Linked DNA regions of Homo sapiens. The protein of the gene in region 2 binds, or shares a complex with, the protein of the main gene of each other region. Each region holds a gene or a part of one and is shown on either strand. Other genes may lie near its edges.

The links.
Region 1: TMEM231 (region 2) and AHI1 share a complex: the UniProt entries of both Homo sapiens proteins name them as parts of the tectonic-like complex.
Region 3: TMEM231 (region 2) and TMEM67 share a complex: the UniProt entries of both Homo sapiens proteins name them as parts of the tectonic-like complex.
Region 4: TMEM231 (region 2) and TMEM107 share a complex: the UniProt entries of both Homo sapiens proteins name them as parts of the tectonic-like complex.

What each region holds. Positions count from the first base shown.
Region 1 is NC_000006.12:135,284,736-135,291,770, reverse strand, and holds part of AHI1 (jouberin), read left to right. Parts: intron 1-1,245; coding exon 1,246-1,348; intron 1,349-6,123; coding exon 6,124-6,126; coding exon of another isoform or gene 6,127-6,145; 3' UTR 6,146-7,035. UniProt on the Homo sapiens protein: Involved in vesicle trafficking and required for ciliogenesis, formation of primary non-motile cilium, and recruitment of RAB8A to the basal body of primary cilium.
Region 2 is NC_000016.10:75,536,227-75,539,273, forward strand, and holds the end of TMEM231 (transmembrane protein 231), read right to left. Parts: 3' UTR 515-3,047; downstream 1-514. UniProt on the Homo sapiens protein: Transmembrane component of the tectonic-like complex, a complex localized at the transition zone of primary cilia and acting as a barrier that prevents diffusion of transmembrane proteins between the cilia and plasma membranes.
Region 3 is NC_000008.11:93,778,882-93,785,916, reverse strand, and holds part of TMEM67 (meckelin isoform 1 precursor), read right to left. Parts: intron 5,325-7,035; coding exon 5,170-5,324; intron 5,044-5,169; coding exon 4,935-5,043; intron 4,260-4,934; coding exon 4,173-4,259; intron 3,523-4,172; coding exon 3,457-3,522; intron 696-3,456; coding exon 539-695; intron 1-538. UniProt on the Homo sapiens protein: Required for ciliary structure and function. Part of the tectonic-like complex which is required for tissue-specific ciliogenesis and may regulate ciliary membrane composition.
Region 4 is NC_000017.11:8,173,381-8,181,368, forward strand, and holds the start of TMEM107 (transmembrane protein 107), read right to left. Parts: upstream 3,001-7,988; 5' UTR 2,907-3,000; coding exon 2,820-2,906; intron 2,647-2,819; coding exon 2,579-2,646; intron 2,496-2,578; coding exon of another isoform or gene 2,478-2,495; coding exon 2,377-2,477; intron 1,495-2,376; exon of another isoform or gene 1,396-1,494; intron 1,237-1,395; coding exon 1,140-1,236; intron 893-1,139; coding exon 823-892; 3' UTR 1-822. UniProt on the Homo sapiens protein: Plays a role in cilia formation and embryonic patterning. Requires for normal Sonic hedgehog (Shh) signaling in the neural tube and acts in combination with GLI2 and GLI3 to pattern ventral and intermediate neuronal cell types.

The DNA.
Region 1 (7,035 bases), on a different chromosome or scaffold from region 2:
TTCTTTTATCATTCTATCTAAATTTACTGTCCTTTCTTCTTTGTAATTTCTGACCTTTTCATTCTCAGTCATCTGACTTCATTTCACTTACTTACACATTTCTTCATTAGTCTATTCAGGGTGCCACAGAGAATACCACAGACTTCATTGCTTAAACTACAGAAACTTATTTTCACACAGTTCTGGGGGCTAGAAGTCCCAAGATCAAGGTGCCAGCAGGATTGGTTTCCCGTGAGGCCTCTCTTCCTGGCTTGGAGGTGGCTGCCTTCTTGTTGTGTCCTCACATGGCCTCTTCTCTGTGCAAAAAGAGCACGCTCTGGTTTCATCTTTCCATCTTCTAAGGACTCTAGTCTTATTAGATTAGAACCCCACTCTTCTGACCCCATTTAACCTTAGTTATCTCCCTAGAAGCCCCTGTCTCCAAATGCAGTTACATTAGGAGTTCAGGTGTCAACATGTGAATTTTGGGGAAATATCATTTGGTTCACAAGAATCTCTATTCAGTCCTATTTAATACCTGATTTTGAAATTCTTGTATCTTTTTCAAGCTCCTCTGTGGTGTTTCTCACCATTCCTAGACAACTTAGAAGATACTCTGTTCCATTCTTCAGTTTTCCTTTTTTTTTCATTGTTTTTGTGTTTTCTTTCTCCTAATATAAAGTGCATTACTACACACTCATCCACAAAACATTTGTTTTATATTTTGCTATTGCCATTGAATCATTTGGAAAGCTACATTGTTCATTCCACAGATCAGGATGTTACAGCTTTCTTATATATAAATTTCCTTCATTTCTTTTCTTGTCATGAATGAATGTCCTATACTTTTGTGTGTGTGTGTGTGTGTGTGTGTGTGTTTGTGTGTGTTTCCACCTAAGTTGATAGAACTTTCTGATTTTTCCCAGGCATCTAATATTTTTCTGAGACAGATGAAATTTATTTTATTCTGTAAGTCCACAGATAATTGTTTAAGATTTTGAAATTTATTTTATTCTTGTCCCTTTATCATGGCTAAGAAGGAGCCCAACCAGCCAAAGGTTTGTCTGTTAACGTTATTTTAAGCAATTCCTTGTCTCTCATCCCCGTGTATACTCATTAGTTCTGCCGGATGTTTTTCTCTGTCATATCCTCACATTTATCCCCATTTTTGTTTCCACTGCCACGGCCCTAGATCAAAGCCTCATCTGAGCTTTTAGCTCAGCTCTCTTTTACTGGCTCCTTGTTTCTGATCTTTCCCTCCTATAGTTCTGAAATGAGAAAAGAACAGAGCCATGAGGACCAAGGACACATAATGGATACACGGATGAGGAAGAACAAGCAAGCAGGCAGAAAAGTCACTCTAATAGAGGTAAGGGGAAAACCAATAGAAAGTTGCGCTATGTTGTCAACAGGAAAAGATTTAGGAAAGCATGGTCAGCAAGGACAAATACCAGAGAGAGGCAAGTAAAATAAGGACTGACAAGTCCCATTTGGGATCTGTAACCGGGAGGCCATTTGCGACCTTGGAGAAGATAGTTTTGATGGAGAAACCTGGAAGCATAAATCAGATTGTCTCCAGCCCAAAGGGAAAAAGACTGTAAGAATAGTCTTATTCTCTTTAGAAGCTGGAATTTAAAGGAAAGAAAAAGCTAGGCAGTAACTAGTGGAAAACACAGGGTATAGACAAGATCTTTATAAAGAGGGGAATGACAAGAATATTTACAAACTGAGAGGAAAGAGCCACTTGAGAAGGAGCCATCTGCGGTGTCGGAGCAGAGTGATAGTCCCTGGGGGCCTAAGGAACTCCAGAGGATTACAGCTCAAGAGTGGGCCACTTTTTCCACCGAGATACGCCAGTGGGAAAATGTGTTTGGATGGTAGGGGTTGGGGTATAGGGAAGGCCTGCCAGAAGGCCTTTTCTCTATTAAGTAGAAGTGAAGTTTCTGTTCAAGGTGAAATGTTACGAAGCTGTTCATGTCCACATTTATAAATTTGTCATTTTGTAGGAACTAGAGTCAAAATTTTCATATTTTTATTTTTCCATTGTAGAAAACTAAAATCTAATTGTACAGAAGCATATAGATGCATAGTTATGTAATCATGGGCTAAGGAATTATTTTTAACCTTGATACCAGAATTGGAAAACATTATAAAACAGATTCTTAAATAATGGAAACTTTAAAATTATGCAGGTCAAAAAGAAAAAAAGTCATAGAATTTTTAAATGAACAATAACCTGGGATGGAAGAGATTTACCCATGGAAGAGTAATACTCTTTTTTTTGTTGTTGTTGTTGTTTTGAGACGTCTTGCTCTGTCACCCAGCCTAGAATGCAGTGGTGCAATCTCAGCTCACTGCAGTCTCCACCTCCCGGGTTCAAGTGATTCTCCTGCCTCAGCCTCCCGAGTAGCTGGGACTACAGGCACGTGTCACCACACCCAGCTAATTTTTGTATTTTAATAGAGTCAGGGTTTTGCCATGTTTCCCAGGCTGGTCTTGAACTCCTGACCTCAAGCCATCCACCTGCCTCAGCCTCCCAAAGTGCTGGGATTACAGGCGTGAGCCACCGCACCTGGCCAGGAGTAATACCCTTAACAAATAAAAAGCTCTAAGAGGAGCTTTTTCAACAAGAAAAAAAATACACCAGTAGAAAAACGGGACAAAGATATACACAGGACATTCTTAAAGGATTCTTAAAGGGATAAATATAAATGGCAACAGACATATGAAAAATGTTTACCATCCATTGATCAAATTAATGAAAATTAAAACAATAAAATGAGATGGTATTTTACCCTTTCAAAATGACAAGTTTCAAACTTATGATACATACCTAGTATTGATGAGAAAATGGGATGTGGATTCCCGCTTACACTGCTGGTAATACTATAAGATTGATCCATTCTTTGTGAAGTATAATTAGGTAATATGTTAGGGTTTTTTTTTTGTTTTGTTTTGTTTTCAAAATGTGCATCTCTTTGACCTGACAGTTCAACTTCAAGGAATCTCTTATAGGAAAGTATTCAAGTATACATGGAGAGATTTAGTTAAAAGGCTACTCCTTCGAGCAGTGTTTTTAAAATAAAGGGTTGATTAAAATATGAAATATTTATATAACAGAATATCATATGGTTATTCATCATATTATGGAAGTATTTTTATGGACATGAAAAGATGTTTATGATTTTTAAGTAAAAAATGATTATAAAATAGTTTATATAATATACATCAAAAGACATGAATAATTATCTGAGTAGTAAGATTATGGTAATTTTTTTCTTCTATTTTAACTTTGTGCATTTTCTAATTTATCTACTTACTGTATATTTACTACTTGATCATTTCTTTCAAAATGAATGTAATTTTTAGAAATTTTCTAATACAGCGTGTTGTTTCTACATTTAAAGAAACCAAGGTTTCAAAGTTACAGCTACAAAGTACCTGAACTAGGAATTAATCTTCTTGCCCCAAGTTCAGGGCTGTTTCTCTTACACATTGCTTTGTATATTAACTCTGATTAGATGGCCAGTGCTTCCAGTCAGGGGCTATTATTTAATACATACTCACATTTTTTTCCTCCCCTGCACTTAGCCTGGTGTCTTGCCACAGAAGTAAACCTTCAGGAAAGATCTATTGGATTGAATGTCTTGTGGGGTAAGGTCCAGGTTTTTTTGTTGTGTTTTGTTTTTGTTTTTTTGAGAGGGAGTCTTGCTGTGTTGCCCAGGCTGGACTGCAATGGTGCGATCTTGGCTCACTGTAACCTCCACCTCCTGGATTCAAGTGATTCTCCTGCCTCAGCCTCCCGAGTAGCTGGGATTACAGGCACCCACCACCACACCTGGCTAATTTTTGTATTTTAGTAGAGATGGGGTTTCACCATGTTGGCCAGGCTGGTCTCAAACCCCTGACCTCAAGTGATCACCCGCCTCAGCCTCCCAAAATGCTGGGATGACAGGCATGAGCCACCATGCCCGGCCACGGCCCGGTATTTTTATGAATCTTATTCCCCAGACATAACATACACACAAACACTAACCTAGTTTCATACTTGTTTTCATAAGCTTGCTAAGAAGAATGTTTCTTTCTCTTTTCATCACAAGAGCCTTTAAAAAGGGCTTTGCTTCGTTACTTTCTTCCTCTGTTAGATTACAGAGATACTTTATGAGAAGATAGAGAAGGAATGGCTTTGCATTTATCCTTGTCTTTTGGTTAGATGTCTTCTCCTCCCTCTTTCAGCACATCCCTGCTGTCTCCTAGCTTTCAGGTCCTTTTGCTGTTAGCGTTCATCAAGCCAGTGTGCCACTCTTGATTTTCCTCCCATCGTCAGGAGGAGCCGCCAGTGTCCGAAGGGTGCACATGACCATCTTTATTCTGTCTCTTTTCTCCCTTTTATGCGCCATCTTTGTCATTCTCTATCCAGTGTGTTTCTTCCTCTTCTGAGTCTGAATCATTTCCCTCAAAGATGTTATCTTTGCTGCCTACTTTAGATTTTTCGAGTTGAATTTCTCTTTGGGTTCTTCTCCTGAAGGTCCGTCTGGCTTCTCTGTTTACTTCTCACAGTGCAGTCACCACCTGATTGATTTCACTTGTCCTACATCTTCTGCACGTGCAGGATCCATCTCACTAATTTCCAGCTGTTCTTCTCCCCTTCTCCCCCTTCCCTTTTCTGTTTTTCTTCTTCTTTTTTGTCCTCCCACTAACATGAACTCTTCCTCTCACTTTGTTTTGCCTTATTCTTCCTGTAAGATCCTTTACCCTCCTCACTGCCTTTTGCAGAAGTTTATATGTCTCTCTGTGACTTTAGCCCAGCCTTCATTGAAACTACTTTCTTTTCCATTTTTATCAGATCCTAATTTGGTGAAAGTTTTACGTACTTTTTCTGTATATGTACAGGGAGACTTTTTTTGCCCCTAGTGGTATTATACCTTGGCATGCCGTATTCTGTACCATTTTTATACTCAACTTCATGTGCATTCATGAGCTTCACTAGAACGTATTTTTGGGCTTCTATATATGATACAAGCTTACCTGGAGTAGCTCTGTTTAACAAATTTAAAATCAAGAAACATCAAGTGATAAAGAATTTTTGCCCCTCATGTGTAAATGTGTTTTATATGAAAAGATAGTGCGACCATTGATTTAAGATTGGGCCTGTTCCTTAAAGCACAGGTGTCCCCTACACCTCCTGTGCCCCCAGGGAAAGCCCTTCAGGAATGGTTAGCCATTGCCCTTTCTTGCCACAGTGTGCCAGCTGTCACTTTTCTCAGGAGTGGTCGATGGAGTTGACTGCTACCTTAACCAGATTTGCCATCGTTCTGAAACTGCCGTGTGTTTTCTAAGGACAACCAGGTGTTAAGCCTTTCTCTTTAGAAGAAGGACAGTAACCTTTCTGTGTAAGTCCAGAACTTATCAATGCTGTATGAATGATTGCATTAAAAAATGTTAGGTTTAGCCCCACTAATTTATCTCACACTAGTTGTAGTGCAAATACTACATGCTGTCTAAGGAAGCAACTTCTTGTTTCATCTGCATATTGGTTCTTGATTTTTATGAATTGTATAATTTGTTTTACATCAAAGCCACATCTGGATGCTTGATTGTTACTATCTTGGTCAAAAATGAGACAGCCCATTTTTTAATTGATTTGAAAAATGTAATAACCTAATTATATAAAAGTAGGCATAGCCATAGACTAAATGAAAGAATGCTATTTAATAAAATTATCTGTATCCTTCCGAATCACTAACCCTGAATATCATCCATGAGGACTTTTTTTCCCATTCAATGAAGAATTTCATATACTCTGATTGCCTGCTCTTCATTTCTGGAAGTTACTTATGGTTTGGAGTTTTTAGTGTCTATATTTGGGGATTTTATTTCTTTCTTGCTTACATTAACCTGTCAATGCAGGAGCAGGCCTTAAACAATTGCTAATGATACAAAAAGATGCTAACAATGTTTGAGAGGCAAACTAGAAGATAGGAAATTAGTATTTTGGTCTTTTTTAGTTGTGTTTGTATGTGTTTGTGTTTTACACAATGTCCTTTATTACCTGTGCTGTTGCCTGAGCACACTAAGATTTGGTTGTAGTCAGAAGACATTATTCAAGTTTATTTAGTACATTTTGTGTATTTTTCTTTCCAGTAAAGAATTGAAGAAAAGTTAAGAGCTGCCGAAATGCACAGAGGTGAAAATGACAAACCAAATGGAATTTCTCTTCAGAGTTCAGAATTTTCAGATACTAAGGAGGAAGAAAGGATCCACTACTTCTTGTTCTTATGAATGACTCTAGAAAAATCAGAATCAAGTTGTGGGTGGAAAAATCAACGTGGCCTTTGAGTTCAGTTGTTATAAACCATTGTGACTATTGTTGGTCAAAGTATTGGTACTTATATTGTTAGTAATTGCATCATAATTACATTACCAGTGTTGGAAAACTAATGAAGAAAACACTGTAATTGCTACTCAGCAAATGTGAATAAAAGGTGTTTGCGTTATTAGGATGTCTGTTAAGTAATCATTTAATATTATTATATTGGTAATGGTTGTATGTGTGATGCTATGCCCAGAATATGAAGTATCTGTTTTTGAAATTCACTTTATTTAAAAGATAAGCAGCTGACTGGGCACGGTGCCTCATGCCTGTAATCCTAGCACCTTGGGAGGCTGAGGCAGGTGGATCACCTAAGGTCAGGAGTTCAACAACACCAGCCTGACCAACATGGTGAAACCCCATCTCTACTAAAAATACAAAAATCAGCCGGGTCTCATGGCAGGCACCTGTAATCCCATCTACTGAGGCAGGAGAATTGCTTGACCCAGGAGGCAGAGGTTGCAGTGAGCCAAGATCACGCCATTGCACTCCAGCCTGGGGGACAGAGCAAGACTCTATCTCCAAAAAACAAAAAAGATAAGCAGCTTTAGAATATGGCGCATTCAAAACAGTCTCAGTAACAAAGACATTAAAAGAAAACAATTTACTTTCTAATTAAAATTTTGTGTTTCTTAAGATCAAATCATATAGGTAACTTCATAGACCTAAATTAAAAGTGATTT
Region 2 (3,047 bases):
CCTTACAAATAACAGCTCAGCCTGGCCTGGTGGCATATGACTGTAATCCCGGCACTTTGGGAGGCAAGGCAGGCAGATCACTTGAGGTCAGGAGTTCAAGACCAGCCTGGTCAACGTGGCAAAACCCCATCTCTACTGAAAATACAAAATTTAGCCGCGCATGGTAGCACATGCCTGTAATCCCAGCTACTAGGTAGGCTGAGACAGGAGAATAGCTTGAACCCCGGAGGTGGAGGCTGCAGTGAGCGGAGATGGGGCCATTGCACTCCAGACTGGGTGACAAAGCGAGACTCCATCTCAAAAACAAAGAAACAAACGGGCAGAGTCCAGTAATCTGAAAAGGATAGAGCATTGGGAGGTCCTTTAATCCATGGTGGTATCTGAAACGAGGAGTCCCTGCTGCTGGGAGTAGAAATTAGCAGTCTTTCCTGGCTGTGGTTTGGCAATGAATTAAGATCCTTAACAATGGTCATAAGTTTTCTGAATGTATCTTAAGGAAATAAACCAGCAACAATGATTTCTACACAAGGTTTATAAAAGTGTTGTTTGTGATACTAAAAAGGTTACATACAACAAAAAAGATTAGAAAGATGTGTGCCAGAATGCCAACCATAATAACTTCTGTGATCAAACTGCTGTGATCCCAGCACTTTGGGTGGCCAAAGCGGATGGATCACTTGAGGTCAGGAGTTCGAGACCAGCCTGACCACCAGGGTGAAGCCCTGTCTCTACTAAAAACACAAAAATTAGCCGGGCATGGTGGTGGGCACCCGTAATCCCAGCTACTCGGGAGGGTAAGGCAGGAGAATCACTTGAACCTGGGAGGTAGAGGCTGCAATGAGCTGAGATCATGCTGCTGCACTCCAGCCTGGGTAACAGAGTGAGACTCTGTCTCAAAAAAAAAAAAAAAAAAGAAAAAGAAAAAGAAAAGAAAAACCACCTACTGGGTACTATGCTTATTACGTGGGTGATGAAATAATCTGTACACCAAACCCCCAGGTTGTACAATTTAGCTATATACGAAACCCATACATATACCCCATGAGTCTACAATAAAAGTTGGAAGGAAAAAAAAAAAAGAAATAATTGCTTTATTAGCCTTACATGATGGAATATTAGGGGGGCCTCATCTGACTTAAGCCGAAACTGTACTAATCATTTGGCAAAATCAGGAGTCTTTCTGCCTCCAAATATTCAGTAATAACATCAAACCTTAACTTAGCTATGGGTCGGAGCTGAGTTAATAAAATCCTCTATATTTCTTTTTTTTTTTTTTTTTGAGACGGAGTCTAGCTCTGTTGCCAGGCTGGAGTGCAGTGGCGCAATCTCGGCTCACTGCAACCTCCGCCTCCAGGGTTCAAGCGATTCTCCTGCCTCAGCCTACTAAATAGTTGGGATGACAGGCACGTGTCGCCACACCCAGCCAATTTTTGTATTTTTAGTGGAGATGGGGTTTCACCATGTTGGCCAGGATGGTCTCGATCTCCTGACCTTGTGATTCACCCACCTCGGCCTCCCAAAGTGCTGGGATTACAGGCGTGAGCCACCGCTCCCGGCCTCTTGCTTTTTATTTACCTCTTGCAGCTATGCTGTGATTCAGAGTCAGAAACTATCAACATCTGGTCTGTAAATAATTTCATATTCACCAGACACAGTCATAATTATCCAACACGTAGATTTCACATGGCATGTGAATCCCACTGAAAACTCATCTACCTGGGGAAGAACTAGGGGACTTTCACCAAAGACCTCATGGAAGTTCCAAGGTCGTTAGGCAGAGCCTTGTAAAGCATGGCTGTAGATGAGTAATAAAGACAGGTGTGTGCAACCTCTGCCCTCCCTATTCTTTGCCATTCCAAACCCTTTCCCTCGAAAAAGGTACATGTGATCTTCCATTTTGACTTTTTTATTTATTTATTTATTTATTTTAACAGATAGGGTCTCACTCTGTCACCCAGGCTACAGTACAGTGGTGCAATCATAGCACACTGCAGCCTCAAGCTCCTGGGCTCAAGTGATCCTCCCACCTTGGCCTCCCAAAGTGTTGAGATTACAGGAATGAACCACCATGCTCGGCCTCATTTTGAACATTTTAATTAGAAAGTTACAAAACATCATGGGTTCTTTATACAAGATTTGCATTAGAATAATTTAATAAAATGCAAACCAATGTTTATACGTATCTTGTCATCTTTCCATATCTCATTGCCTTATGTGAATTTAAACAAGAAACTATTTTTCGTTTAGATCTTAAGAAAAAAATTTAGGCATATAAAACAGCCTGAATATTAAAAAAAGACAAGGGGGTCAGTGTTAGGGAATTCCTCTGCTTGAATACTTCAAAATAGCTTTGTTTCCAAAACTGTTTTAGTAAGCCTAAAGGAGCACTAAAAACGACAACTGATCTCCAAAGTAAACTGAGGCACACACTGAGGGGTGTGTTTCTGGGTGGGCATGAAGCATGGATCACCGGGGCCATGTCCTTCCAGTGGCAATGACCTGCTTGGGATCAGGAAGCAGCTCCATGTGTTCTTGGAGGAGACTGCCCACATCCTCAGGAGGTGAATGGGCTGAACAAGCCATCTTCCGTGTGCAGAGGCCCCTTCCAGCCATCTCTGCTCCTGCAGACACTTGCTTAGCCACGAGGGTAATCCACTGGACTGCTTGGTATTCTGCTAGTGGCCAGGCTGGACTGGCCTGCCCAGGCCAGCATCCTCTTTACACTCTTACTGCTTCTTGTGTCCTTCCCAAAGCTGCCCGCCCCACTCTGATGGGCACCCTGTTCCTTAGTCAAGGGAAACGCCAGCCGCTGGGCTTCCCGCTAGCCTTCCAAATAAACTTGTGGTTGTCAGGCAGCGGGAGCCAATCCCAACACCAACCCCTGTCGCCCCTGTCCTTTGCAGGAAGGGGGAGGGCTGTCAAGGAGGAGGAGGGCCAAGTGCCCAGGCTGTTGGGTGAGGGCCAGAAAGAACCTGTTGTGACAATGCTTTCTTCCCCCAGTGCTGCTGAGGGGGCTGAGAATGAAACAGCCCCTCTGACTTCAGCCT
Region 3 (7,035 bases), on a different chromosome or scaffold from region 2:
TTTTTTGTAGCAACCAGTTCTAATTATGTTGCCTAGGTTGGTCTTCAATTTCTAGGCTCAAGCAATTCTCTCGTCTTGGCCTCCCAAAGTGCTGCGATTATAGGCGTGAGCCACCGTGCCTTGGACTTGAATGTCTTCTGATTGAACTTTTCATAAATTTGGAAGGCTTTCCCCTGCAAATTACCTGAAAAAGCAGAATTTTATAACATGAATAACAACAAAAGAAACTAATTTGTCCAAAAAAGCATATTCGGGACAGCTTGACGAAAAAGCCCCAATTTACGGTTCTACTAATGTTTCTCAGGATATACCCTCAGCAACAGTATAATTTCTTAACAATATGTCTGGCAATAAAATTAGCAACAGTTTCTAAGTCCACCAGCAATTTATTGTTTCATTTTTTGGCACACTGTATAGAACCACATAAGAGAGAATTCATGACCTTTCTTATAATCAGTGGTTTATTAAATTATCATGTAGGTTAACTTATTTGTTGATTTCTGCTCAGGGAAAAGAGTGGTATGTATGGATGTCTTACCTTGGTTCACAAATATCTTATTATGTTGAAGATTTAGGTTTAACACAGGCACAGCCAAAATATATTGATGTTGATTTTCATCAGTATATTCAAGGTACACATCATAAAATATAGGAGTGGGAAAGTCAATTAAGATCTTAGAGATAGGAATCTCACACTGAAAAGTAAAATTAAAAATAAAAGCACATAAAACAGCAACTTAAAGTACTAAAAAGTAAAAAATAAAATAAAAGATCACAATTGAAAATTAGCAAGCATATTTATTATCTTCAGAGTGTTTTTCTAGTTTTGCAAAATGTCTTTATACTACCTTGTTTATATGCATTTTCATTTGTCTTCCAAAACATGAATACTATGATTATTTTATAAGGACCAAAACCACTAACAGTAAAGTACTGCTTTGAGAATTTTGAGAACTTCTTGAGCTTCAACTCAGATGAAGGAGGTATACCTTCATTCTCAATATTAAGGGTACATCAGTGAAAAGGTTTAAAACTACTGTCCTACGGGATAAATTCCCAATTTTTTCTCCTGCTGTACAATGATGTATATGATCTGGCTTCCATTAACCAAGCCAGGCTTATCTCTCATTACTCCCTATCAGTCTATGGTGGTCCATTCATACTAATCTACTTGTAGTTTCTAAATATGCCATACTACTGTATGTCTCTCTGTCATTACAAATGTGATTTCTGTCTGATATTTCCTTCCCCACTGTGTTCTTCTGGAAAACTCATATTCATTATACAAATCCAAGTATCACTTACTTTGTGAAGCCTTTCTATACTTCCCCAGGAATCAGTACCTTGTACATACCTATAGAATGACACTTATCACATTCTTTGCAATTCTTTGTCTATATAACTGTTTTGCCCACTAGTCTATGAAGGACTTGAGAGTTAGCCAGGTTCAAAGAAATAAAAATGCTTTTTAAACCTGATGATAGAACATTGGCTCCACAGTTTATGTGACACAAGTCTTTGAGTAAATTACCTAATTACACGGCATAATTTCCTCATCTGTGAAGCACAGATACTATGTATCTCATATAGTTATTTTATGAATCAAATGGGATAATAACGATAAAATGCTGAGCACACAGATAGGCATTACATAAGTGTTGATCTTTCTGGCCTATGTTAGAAGCACAATAACATTTATTTTAACAACAACAGCAACAACAACGTGTAAATCATTTCTGACAAAAGAAGTAAATTCATGTTCATGGTAGAAAATTTGGAAATTATAAAAAAGAAAAAAATAATTTCTAACCCCACTATCCAGAGGTAACCACTGTTAGTAGATTCTTCCAATCTACTTTCCATAATGGTATTTTTTGTTATGGTTTTGTTCTATGGTTGTGCGTGGAACTTTATCAAGATGTACTTTTACAGACTAATGAATTGATATGGTTTGGCTGTGTCCCCACCCAAATCTCATCTTGAACTGTAGTTCCCATAATCCCCATGTGTCATGGGAAGGACCCGGAGGGAGGTAATTGAATCATAGGGGCAGTTACCCTCATGCTGTTCTCATGATAGTGAGTGAGTTCTCATGAGATTGATGGTTTTATGAGGGGCTTCTCCCCCTTTTGCTCAGTACTTCTCTTCCTGTCACCACGTGAAAAAGGACATGTTTGCTTCCCTTCCACCATGATTGTAAGTTTCCTGAGGCCTCCTCAGCCATAGTGAACTGTGAGTCAATTAAACCTATTTCCTTTGTAAATTACCCAGTCTCGGATGTGTTTTTATTAGCAGCGTGAGAACGGACTAATACATGCATGTTTTTCAAGTATTGAATGGCTCATAATATTCCTTAGTAAAATAATGTAATTTCAAAATAGGTATCAAAGTAAGGAAAGTCAGAGAAGGAAGGAGAAAGAAAAGAATGGAAGAAGATGAAGGAATTATTTTTATTTGTTATGAGCGGGTAGAAGAAGGGAGTAACTTTTTATTAGTCATTTAAAAAAAGTAGTATTTTTACTTTATTTCAAAATGCTCAGAAGTAAGCATTACTTTTTAAGACCTATAAGCCTAGAAGCAGATAAACAATTTATTATGAAGATGTAATATTATATGATGTTTAAGACTCTAGGCCGGACGAGGTGGCTCACACCTGTAATCCCAGCACTTTGGGAGGCCAAGGCTGGTGGATCAGTTGAGGTCAGGAGTTTGAGACAAGCGTGGTCAACACAGCAAAACCCCATCTCTATGCAAAACACAAGAATTAGCTGGGTGTGGTGGTACATGCCTGTTGTCCCAGCTACTCAGGTGGTTGAGGCACGAGAATTGCTTGAACCCAGGAGGCAAGAGATTGCAGTGAGCTGAGATTGCACCACTGCACTCCAGCCTGGGCAACAGAGCGAGACTCTGTCTCAAAAAACAAAAAACTCTATAGATAACAAGGTGCTCTGTTTATGCCACTTAAATTAAGCTTTTATGTACCCAGGTAATAAAAAATTATATTAAATAGTGAAATTATTCTTCACTATTAAAAACATTTCCGGCCAGGCACGGTGGCTCATGCCTGTAATCTCAGCACTTCGGGAGGCTGAGGAGGGCAGATCATCTGAGGTGGGGAGTTCAAGATCAGCCTGATCAACATGGAGAAACCCTGTCTTTACTAAAAATACAAAAAATTAGCTGGGCGTGGTGGCACATGTCTGTAATTCCAGCTACTCGGGAGGCTGAGGCAGGAGAATCACTTGAACCTGGGAGGCGGAGGTTGTGGTGAACTGAGATTGCACCACTGCACTCCAGCCTGGGCAACAAGAGCAAAACTCCATCTCAAAAAAAAAAAAAAAAAAACCAAGAATAAAAAATTTCCAATCTCAAAAATTTAAGTATTATTCCAATTACTGCTGACATGATATTTTGAAAAATAAAGCTAAAATATAGACTAATATCGTTCAAACTTACATTTTGTTGGTAGGTTGTTCCAAATGAATAAGCAGCATTTAGCCTTGTCTCTGTGTCTGGACAAAGCTGCAGCAAAATAATACAACAGATAAATCTCACAAATGTTTTCTATTCTTATACTCAAGAGTTCTCAAACCCGAACATGGATATATGCTCTACATAATACTTATTTAATGTATCAAGGATATGAAAAGTTAAGGGAACATCTGTTATAAATGAAAGTCATAACTTTAAAGAAATAAAACTTAGCCAGGCATGGTGGCTCATGCCTGCAATCCCAGCGCTTTGGGAGGCCAAGAAGGGCGGATCACGAGGTCAGGAGATCAAGACCATCCTGGCTAACATGGTGAAATCCCGTCTCTACTAAAAGTACATAAAAATTAGCTGGACGTGGTGGCAGTCGCCTGTAGTTCCAGCTCCCAGCTGAAGCAGGAGAATGGCGTGAACCCGCAAGGCGGAGCTTGTAGTGAGCTGAGATCGCGCCACTGCACTCCAGCCTGGTTAAGAAAGCGAGACTCCATCTCAAAAAAAAAAGAAAAAACAAACAAACAAACAAACAAACAAAAAACTTAAGAAAGTCTAATTTAAAGCATCAGAAAAAAAATCAACTGTAGTATGTAACTGATGCTTTATTCATACAATAATCTTTTCCTCTTGGCTTTGTCTCAGGCAAAAATAATGCATGTTATTAATTCTTTAACTAGAATCATGCTTACCTGTAAAACACCTCCTTCTAAAGTTTGCCACTTGAGAAAATTTCCTCTTATATCATAGGAAGCAGCAACAAACTTCAGTTTTGTATTCTGATTAAAGAAAACGAGCAAAATCAGGTCAAATACTCTGAAAGTAATACAATATCCTATAAAGAAATTTTCATTGTTGACTGATCTTTTTTGTTGAAAAATTACATTCAATTATCTTTATTTTGAGGTTCAATTAATCTATTTCTATGACTAAATAGACCTGAAAGAATTAGACTGGTTTTTTGCATGAAAATTATTATTCTAGAATTGAGAGGCAGCACTAGTGACAGATAGCCTCCTTTTGAACCTGTTAAATAGGAGGCAGTGTGGGAGAATAGTATCTCCTCATTCTGGAAGGTCAAAAAGTTACAGGTAGGAATTTGGCCCTGTGAAGTGCTGAGCAATGTCACAGAGCCCCAATCAATCTTTGGAAGCACTTCTTTAAGGTGTGGAAAAAACAGGACAGAGATTTTTTGCATTTGGTGATGAAAACTGCTCTTCCCAACCCTACAAGTACAACTTCTTGCCATAACCACACAATCCAGAAGTATCCACATATTCAGTAAGATAGCTAAACTCTATACTATTTAGTTCTTATGAGTTGTTGACATTTATATTTAGTTTAGTAACTGAGTTTGTACCAACAACCTAAAAAGGCAAGAATTGTAACTTTATTACCTTTTAAAATTATAAATCAAAATGTAGTTATCCTCTAATGATATTAGACACTTTTACCTGGTTTTCTCCTTTAAAACTGAAATTTGTAGGAAGAGAGGTAGAACTGAGCACTTGAGGTGCTAATCCTAACTGGTCTCCATAAAACAGCCAAGGAAGATTCTGTCTCCTATAAACAGTTACAACTGTTTTAATAATGGAGAATAAATATTTCTTATTATTAGTATTTGTGAATATATTAATAACTGCACTGAATTCAGTCAAAATAACATTTCATCAATCAAAATATCCTTACCAAAATGAAATAGAATGAACAGTGCTCAGTCCAGCAGTATTTTCAAAGATAAACTGAAATAGTCCACATGCATCAAATGTGGCAAAGTCGTAAGAATTCATGTTCATCACACACATATTTCCAAGAGCTTGACAAGATGTTAGATTGGCATATACCTACAACAGAACAATGGCAAAGAAAAGTAACATGAACCTGAACAGTCTATGCAAAAGTTGATATAAAAATTTTACTTTGTGCAGGTCTGTTCCAAGATGGCCGAGTAGGAACAGCTCCGGTCTGCAGCTCCCAGCATAATCAACGCAGAAGGCAGGTGATTTCTGCATTTCCAACTGAGATACCTGGTTCATCTCATTGGGACTGGTTGGACAGTGGGTGCAGCCCATGGAGGGCAAGCTGAAGCAGGGTGGGGCATCACCTCACCCAGGAAGCGCAAGGGGTTGGGGGATTTCCCTTTCCTAGCCAAGGGAAGCCGTGACAGACTGTACCTGGAAAAATGGGACACCTCCACCTAAACACTGCGCTTTTCCAATGGTCTTAGCAAACGGCACACCAGATTACATCCCACGCCTGGCTCGGTGGGTCCCACGCCTACAGAGCCTTGCTCACTGCTAGCACAGCTGAGATCAACCTGCCAGGCAGCAGGCTGGCAGGGGGAGGGGTGTCTGCCATTGCTGAGGCTTGAGTAGGAAAACAAAGCAGCCGGGGAAGCTCCAACTGGGTGGAGCCCACCGCAGTTCAGCAAGGCCTGCTGCCTCTGTTGACTCCACCTCTGGCAGCAGGGCATAGCTGAACAAAAGGCACCAGAAACTTCTGCAGAGTTAAACATCCCTGTCTGACAGCTCTGAAGAGAGCAGTGGTTCTCCCAGCACAGCGTTTGAGCTCAGAGAATGGATAGACTGCCTCCTCAAGTGGATCCCTGACCCTGTGTAGCCTAACTGGGAGACACCTCCCAGTAGGGGCCGACAGACACCTCATACAGGTGGGCGCCCCTCTGGGACGAAGCTTCCAGAGGAAGGATCAGGCAGCAATATTTGCTGTTCTACAACCTCCGCTGGTAATATCCAGGAAAACAGCGTCTGGAGTGGACCTCTAGCAAACTCCAACAGACCTGCAGCTGAGGGACCTGTTAGAAGGAAAACTAACAAATAGAAAGGAATAGCATCAACATCAACAAAAAGGACATCCACATCAAAACCCCATCCACATCAAAACCCCATCTGTAGGTCACCAACATCAAAGACCAAAGGTAGGTAAAACCATAAAGATGGGGAGAAACCAGAGCAGAAAAGCTGAAAATTCTAAAAACCAGAGTGCCTCCTCTCTTCCAAAGGAATGCAGCTCCTCACCAGCAACAGAACAAAGCTGGATGGAGAATGACTTTGACAAACTGACAGAAGTACGCTTCAGAAGGTCGGTAATAACAAACTTCTCTGAGCTAAAGGAGGATGTTCGAACCCGTCGGAAGGAAGCTAAAAACCTTGAAAAAAGATTAGACAAATGGCTAACTAGAATAAACAGTGTAGAGAAGACCTTAAATGACCTGATGGAGCTAAAAGACATGGCACAAGAACTATGTGATGCATGCACAAGCTTCAGTAGCCGATTTGGTCAAGTGGAAGAAAGGGTATCAGTAATTGAAGATCAAATTAATGAAATAAAGCGAGACGACAAGGTTAGAGAAAAAAGACTAAAAAGAAATGAGCAAAGCCTCCAAGAAATATGGGACTATGTGAAAAGACCAAATCTATGTTTGATTGGTGTACCTGAAAGTGATGGGGAAAATGGAACCAAGTTGGAAGACACTCTTCAGGATATTATCCAGGAGAACTTCCCCAACCTAGCAAGGCAGGCCAACATTCAAATTCA
Region 4 (7,988 bases), on a different chromosome or scaffold from region 2:
TCAGAACTTCATAGCTATGTTTGTGGATATCTGCTAATCAGCATAACACAAATGTAAGTGATCGTCAGAAAGAATCAGACAGGAGCAATCAGGGTGTTGCAAGTCCTGATTACGCAGAGACGTTAATCACGTTTCATGCATCTCCAATCATCATGTTCTAATCTGCCCTCCGGAGGAGGAACAGGTAAGGATTATCCCACCTGACGATACAGACAAACAGCCGACATTCTGCACTCAGTGAAAAAGATTCCGTTACAAGCTAGGGTGAGTTCATAACGCGCTGGTATGAGCAATCCTATTATTTAGCGTCCTTCCAGTTGTTTTGCCATATTAGCTCGCACATTTTTTTAAATTTTTTTTTCATTCGGCTGCCGAAAAGGAATAAATTACTTCTTCCCAGAATGCTCCGATCAGTTACGTGCCGGACGTTCTAACTGTACGCACTTTCTATTTACATATCTCCGCCCACTCCCTTCCGCCAGGCACCTACCGTAGTAACCAAAATAGAAGCGATACCAAGTATCTTACGGTCTGCAGGACTAGAAAACAGCGTTGTTTTTTTTTTATTCAGTAGTTCAGCCATCTCAATTGTCCCCTAAAACTGTATATAAGTCTTAATGTTACTACAAAACATATTTTATTACAAAGCACTAAATACAATGCGGATAATCCCAGACTCAAGACGTAATTATTCCAACACATATCCTCCAGCAGAAGCAGTTTCCGAGGGGAAAACCGAAGCCTATGCCTTCCTTCTTCCAGGAATACGAAGCGGCCCTTGCCCCTGTAGGCTTCGTCCTTAGGTTCCCGTCATGAAGGTAATCAGAAGGGTTTCTTTTTCAGCCCAAAGACGGTGACGAATAAAGCCATTTCAGTGACAGCTGGAAGGGCACTACCAAGGCAAGTGGTAGATTCAGAAACCCTTTCAGTATAAATACCCAAATCTCCAAACCAGAGACCCCACCTCTGAAAGTGTAGGGCAGGTGGCATGGGGGGTAGGGGATGAAACTTTAAAAGCCTACAGGATGTTGAGTGGATCTGGTATCTCACACATGGAGGAAAGGGCTGGGTAGGGGAAAAACCTTCAGGTTTAGGGCCAACCTTCCTCCCTCATCCCCAAATATTGGATGCTACCACACCTGCAGAAGACAAAAATGTACCAATACGTAGTGCACTCCCAACGCTCGAATATGAAGAAGGACAGGGCCACGGATGCACTACAGTGAGCCCCAATGGCTTGGGAAGGCACGAGATTAAGGAAAGTCTTTGGATCGACAGACAGTGATGGGTCAGAAAAGGCCAGTGGTGGGGCTGGCATCTGCATTCAGGTTCATCCCTTGCTCCCTCACCATGTTTCAAGGGCTAGAGTCAGCAGCTCTGACTTCTGAATTTTAGGACAGTCATGTGAGGAGAGACCAGAAGTGACTGCACAGATCGGACCTCAGGCTACCCTACCCCTTATCTGTGGGCCAGCCTGGATCCTTCAGATGAGAGGTAAGAGTAGGCTCTCCTTCTGCTATGCCACAAAGGAGTGCTGACAGCGACTTAATATGCGCTGGAATCAGCCTCCAGTGTCCTGGTCCTCCTGGTCCACAATTCTCTGACCCATGTGCCTCATCTCCTTTGCCTCTTCTGAGTTCCCAGTGCTCGCTTCCGTTGCCTCTTCTGAGTTCCCATTGTGCTTTATATCTTTTGTTTGTTTTTTGACAGAGTCTTGCTCTGTTGCCCTGGCTGGAGTGCAGTGGCACGATCTCAGCTCACTGCAACCTCTGCCTCCCGGGTTCAAGCAATTCTCCTTCCTCAGTCTCCTGAGTAGCTGGGATTACAGGAGTGCGCCGCCACGCCCGACTAATTTTTGTATTTTTAGTAGAGACGGGGGTTTCACCATGTTGGTCAGGCCGGTCTCGAACTCCTGACCTCAGGTGGTCCACCTGCCTCGGCCTCCCAAAGTGCTGGGATTACATGCGTGAGCCATCGCGCCCTGCCTGTGCTTTCTATCTTCACACACTTCTATAGCACAGTGCTTATCACACTGAATTACAGATTTGTATCTACCTCCTCCTCATTGTAAAAAGAAACGGTGGGGTTTTTATTATTCCTATTATTTTTGTAGACTTGGGTTCTCACTATGTTGCCTCCTGCCTGCGCCTCCCACAGTGCTGGGATTACAGACGTGAGCCAACATGCCTGGCCAAAAACTGTATTTTACTCTCATTTTGGGATTTTAAGTGCCTAGTAAACAGCAGGATTTAGCACATCGTTGAAGATCTTTGAACTGGAAGGATTGGCTACAGCAGACACTATTGTGTCAGGTGGCTGAAGGGAGTCCTGATAGAAGTGGGTCGTGTGGGAAAGGTGGGCAGGCAGAAAGGATACAGATGAGGCTCTGGGTGCTGTTGAACATGGAGACTCCTGAGAGGAAACCGGCCAGCTCCACTGCAAAGAGGCCCAGGGTGACAGAGAGCGCGGCCACCAGCCTGCAGAGAGGAAGTGGACTGGCCCAGGCCTTTGGACTTATTCTAAGACCCCTCCACTCCCACCACCTCTTCGTTCTGGCCACCCCGTCCCAAGAGCTCACTGAATGTCCTGCTTGTCATACTCCTCGGGGGTGAACGTGAGAGGCAGGCAGGCCTGTATGTTGCTGTCCTGGGAGCAGGGCACAGGAAGAGAAGTGAAAAAGGGGCAGGCTGCAGGGCAGGCCTGGGGGCGGCGGGAAACAAGAAAACCCAAGAGGGTAAGACACTGGGAGGGGGCAGGGTAGGACTAGGACCACTCAGAGATGGGAATGGGGACGGATTGAGTGCAGCCGTGGGTCTTACCCGGGACCAGAATAAGGTGATGACGACCACCAGATGCGCCAGGAGCGTCAGGAAGCGAGAGGGCACAAGCCCTGAGACCCGGCCCATGGCCCTCGGGGACAAGGGCGGCGGTCTCTGAGGCTGGAAGTTCAGAGACAGCGACTCCTGAAGTCTCCCCGCAAGCCGACAAATCTAGACGAACGCCTCCTTCCCGCCCGCTCAGGCACCGCCCAGTTGCCTTGGTAACCGTGTACGCGGGCTCGGCGCCGCGTTCTCGGAAATCCTCGCGAGCAGTACATTCTCCGGCTGCTGCGGGTCTCTCAGGGCCAGCGAAGGTCAGGGGTACCCGAAGGCGCTTCTAACCTAACGGCTGGGTACCCGCGCGCAGCCAGGCCCTTTGTTCCTCAGAGGGTGCGAGGTGGCACAGCCCCGCAGCGCCCGATCTGCCCACGCAGGGCGGATGAACGGAAACCCACCCTGGCCTAGCTTGGGGACACCAATGCTTCTGCTGTTGCCCACGCCGGGAGCGGCCCCCAGCCCCAGCTACGCTGCCCAGTTGTGGATCACTTGAGACCGCTGCCACCACCACGCCGGGCTGAGTTCCCCGCCATGCCGAAGACTCAGACCCGCTCCCCTTCCCCTCCTCTGCATGCCTTTAGCTTCCCACCAAGCTGGGCCTGAGAAACAAGGGACCCGAACCTGGAGAGGCCGGTGTTCCTGGACTGCTCTGCAGTCACAGATTGTCACGGAGCCCCTGGTTGTCTGAGGACCCCAGGCCTGAACCTTCCTTGAGGAAGACTGATTTCTTTCAGACTACTTTGCTCAGTTTGGTGAGGGATTTGCAGAGTGCAAAAAATGGCCAGCGTCCTTAAACTAGCATGGGGATAAGAGCAGAGCAAGGTGGCTGGAAAGAGTGGGAGTGGACGAAGGGAATGGGACAGTCCCTGCGTCTCTGGGAGGCTTGGAGCCGGCTGGAAGGGAAACTCAACTCAGATTTCTTTGTCCCTTGGAGGTGCTGGGCCTCCGACATTGCCCAGCTACAGTCCAAGAAGCTCTTATCATCGGCGACCTCATGACCTTTGGGCCTCAGCGCAGGTCCCTGCAGATCTGAAAGTTCTTTAATTGCTGAGTCAAGTCCCATCCTCAAGGAACCTCCCGGCCCATCTCCCAGGAGAACAATCTCTTCCTACTCCCCACTCCCCATCTCAGTGCTTTTAGCCAGCCTAAACTACAAGCCCAAGAGGCATTTCTCATTCCTTCAACAAATATTTGTATATGTTTATTGATTACCTAGTAAGGGTATTCTAGTCAGGGAGATCAACAACAGACATGCAAACAAATAAATCCGTAAGATAATAGGCGCTACAAACAGGGAAAAGCGGGCTGTGCACTGTGGCTCACACCTGTAATCCCAGCGCTTTAGGAGGCCTAGGAGGGCGGATCACCTGAGGTCAGGAGCTCGAGACCAGACTGACCAACATGCTGAAACCCTGTCTCCACTAAAAATACAAAATTAGCCGGGCGTGGTGGCGCGTGCCTGTAATCCCAGCTATTCGGGAGGCTGAGGCATGGGAATCGCTTGAACCCAGGAGGTGGAGGTTGCAGTGAGCCGAGATCGCGCCATTGCACTCCAGCCTCTGCAACAAGAGCGCAACTCCGTCTCCAAAAAAAAAAGAAACGCTAGAATTATAATTCTATAAAAATAGGGCATTTATAATTCTATTAAAATAGAGCATTTATTTTGTTTTATTTTATTTATTTACTTTTTCTGAGACGGAGTCTCGCTCTGTCTCCCAGGCTGGAGTGCAGTGGCGCAATTTCGGCTCACTGCAAGCTCGGCCTCCCGGGTTCACGCCATTCTCCCGTCTCAGCCTCCTGAGTAGCTGGGACTACAGGCGCTCGCCACCATGCCCGGCTAATTTTTTGTGTTTTTAGGAGAGACGGAGTTTCACTGTGTTAGCCAGGATGGTCTCGATCTCCTGCCCTCGTGATCCGCCAGCCTCGGCCTTGCAAAGTGCTGGGATTACAGGCATGAGCCACCGCGCCCAGCCGGACATTTAACCTTAAACTTTATTTTAGAAACTTTGGCCAAAAATTGGCCGGGAGCGGTGGCTCAGGCATGTAATCCCAGCACTTTGGGAGACCGAGGCAGGGAGATCACCTGAGGTCAGGAGTTTCAGACCGGCCTGGCCAACATGGTGAAACCTCATCTCTACTGAAAAAAAAAAAAAAAAAAAAGTTAAAAAGTTAGCCAGGTGTGGTGGCGCCCGCCTCTAATCCCAGCTATTCCAGAGGCTGAGGGAGGAGAAGTGCTTGAACCCGGGAGGCAGAGGTTGCAGTGATCCAAGATCGTGCCACTGCACTCCCGCCTGGGAAACAGACCAAGACTTCGTCTCAAAAAAAAAGAAAAGAAATAAAAAGAAAATGCACTCTGGGACCAGAAGCAAAAGCCCATGCCTGTAATCCCAGCACTTTGGGAGGCCAAGGCGAAGTATTCCTTGAACCCAAGACTTTGAAGCCAGTCTGAGCAACATAGTGAGACACCTCTCTCTGTTAAAACAATAATAAAGGCCGGGAATGGTGGCTTACGCTTGTAATCCCAGAACTTTGGGAGGCCGAAGCGGGCGGATCCCCTGAGGTCAGGAGTTTGAGACCAGCCTGACAAACATGATGAAACCCCGTCTCTATTTAAAAATACAAAAAAAAAAAAAAAAAAAAAAATTAGCCGGGCATGGTGGCACACACCTGTATTCCCAGCTACTCGGGAGGCTGGGGCAGGAGAATCGCTTGAACCCGGGAGGCGGATGTTACAATGAGCCGAGATTGCGCCACTGCACTCCAGCCTGGACAACAGAGCAAGACTCCAACTCAAAAAAAAAAAAAAAAAAAATATATATATATATATATATATATACACACACACACACATATATACATACATAGATATCTTTTTAATAAAGTTTTAGGCCGGGCGCGGTGGCTCACGCCTGTAATCCCAGCACTTTGGGAAGCCGAGGCGGGTGGATCATCTGAGGTCAGGAGTTCAAGGCCAGCCTGGCCAACATGGAGAAACCCCGTCTCTACTAAAAATACAAAAATTAGCCAGGCATCGTGGCACGCTCCTGTAGTCCCAGCTACTCGGGAGGCTGAGGCAGGAGAATCTCTTGAACCCACGAGGTGGAGATTGCAGTGAGCTGAGATCACACCACTGCACTCCACTCTGGGTGACAGAATGAGATTCCGTCTTAAAAAAAAAGTTTTAAACAATAAACATTAATGTTTTCGGAGTCTTATATTGTATTATTAAGACAAGAAATTGGAAAAAAAATGGAATGATTTATAGGATTGAGGGTCCCTAAAATGTTGAACTCCTATATATTGAAACTATGTAATGACATTTTCATATAAACCATCTCTTTAAAAGACAGCACAGCCTTTTCTTCATATTGGAGACAATGTAATCACCAAAACTTGCTTTTATCCCCATGAAATAAAAGCTTGTGATTTTCTAAACTTTACTGAGGAGTTACTATTATTATTATTATTATTTTTTTAAAGGAGGTTCAACAAAGTCTCTCTTTGTTTTTTTTAGGCAGGGTCTTGCTCTGTCACTCAGGATGGAGTGCAGGGGTATGATCATGACTACAGTGACCCTCGACCTCCCTGGCTCAGGTGATCCTGCTGTCTCAGCCTCCGGAATAGCTGGGACTACAGACGCACGCCACCATGCCCAGCTAATTTTTGTATTTTTAATAGAGACCGCGTTTCACCGTGTTGGCCAGGATGGTCTCCATCTCTTGACCTCGTGATCTGCCCGCCTCAGTCTCCCGGCACCCAAAGTGTTGGGATTACAGGCGTGAGCCACCGTACCCGGCACCCCCCTCCCTTTTTTTTTTTTTTTTTTTTTTTTGAGACAGAGTTTTCACCTTTGTCGCCCAGGCTGGAGTGCAATGGCATAATCTCGGCTCACTGCAACTGCCGCCTTGTGGGTTGGGGTGATGCTCCTGCCTCAGCCTCCCTAGTAGCTGAGATTACAGGTACCCGCGACCATGCCCAGCTAATTTTTGTATTTTTAGTAGAGACGGGGTTTCACCATGTTGGCCCGGCTGTTCTCGAACTTCTGACTCCTGACTTCAGGTGATCCACCCGCCTCGGCCTCCCAAAGCGCTGGGATTACAGGCGTGAGCCGCCACGCCCGGCCAGTTCTTTTCTTAACTGTTGGACCCCTTCAAAGTTCTGAAGATAGTTTCAAACCTCCCTGCTCTCAGGATGGACAAGGAAACCCATTAAGTTTTCTCCTTTGAAATGACCCCCATTGCATTTGATTCCTAAAATGAGTGATAGTAATGACACCTAATTTACAATGAGAGATGAGCTTCCTGTATTCTCCAATGCAGAAATTACAGCATAGCAAGCATTCAAACGTTCTTAGGAGACAAGATAAAAAGACTGAAGGTTCAGCCTGGGCGACATGGCAAAACCCCGTCTCTACAAAACAATACAAAAAATTAGCCAAACATAGTGGTGCACACCTGTAGTTCCAGCTGCTTGGGAGGCTGAGGTGGGAGGTTCACCTGCACCCAGGAAGTGGAGGCTGCAGTGAGCCATGATCACACCACTGCACTGCAGCCTGAGTGCCAGGAGTGAGACCTGTCTCAAAAAAAAAAAAAAAAAAAAAAAAAGACTGACGAACTCTCCATGCTTTTCTTCCCTCTGTCTGCAACTTACATGCATTTTCGACCTAGACCTTCAGAGGTGAGCTCCCCCAGTGAGAGATTCATCAAATATAACTGTTCACAGATGAAAGAAGTTGTCATAGGCCAAAAGTGAGGAAAATCCAGGACCTGCTTTTGCAAGGTTTTCCAAGGTCTCTGAATAGAAGGAAGTGAAAGAGTCAGCTACATGAACATCTAGGGAAAGAGCATTCCAGACAGAGGACATAGCAAGTGCAAAGATGGTGAGAACAAGCCAAGTGTGTTTGTTGAACAGTAAGGAAGGCAGCATTTCAGAAACCTAGTGATGGAAGGGGAAGAAAAGTTCAGTGTGAGGTTCGTTAGGTAAACAGGGGCCAGATGAAGCCAGGCCTTGCAGCTACAGGGAGGGACATGGTCAGGTTGGTGTTCTAGATGATGACTCTAGTTGCAACATGGATAATGGATTTTAAGCAAATTTTATTTTTATTTATATTCT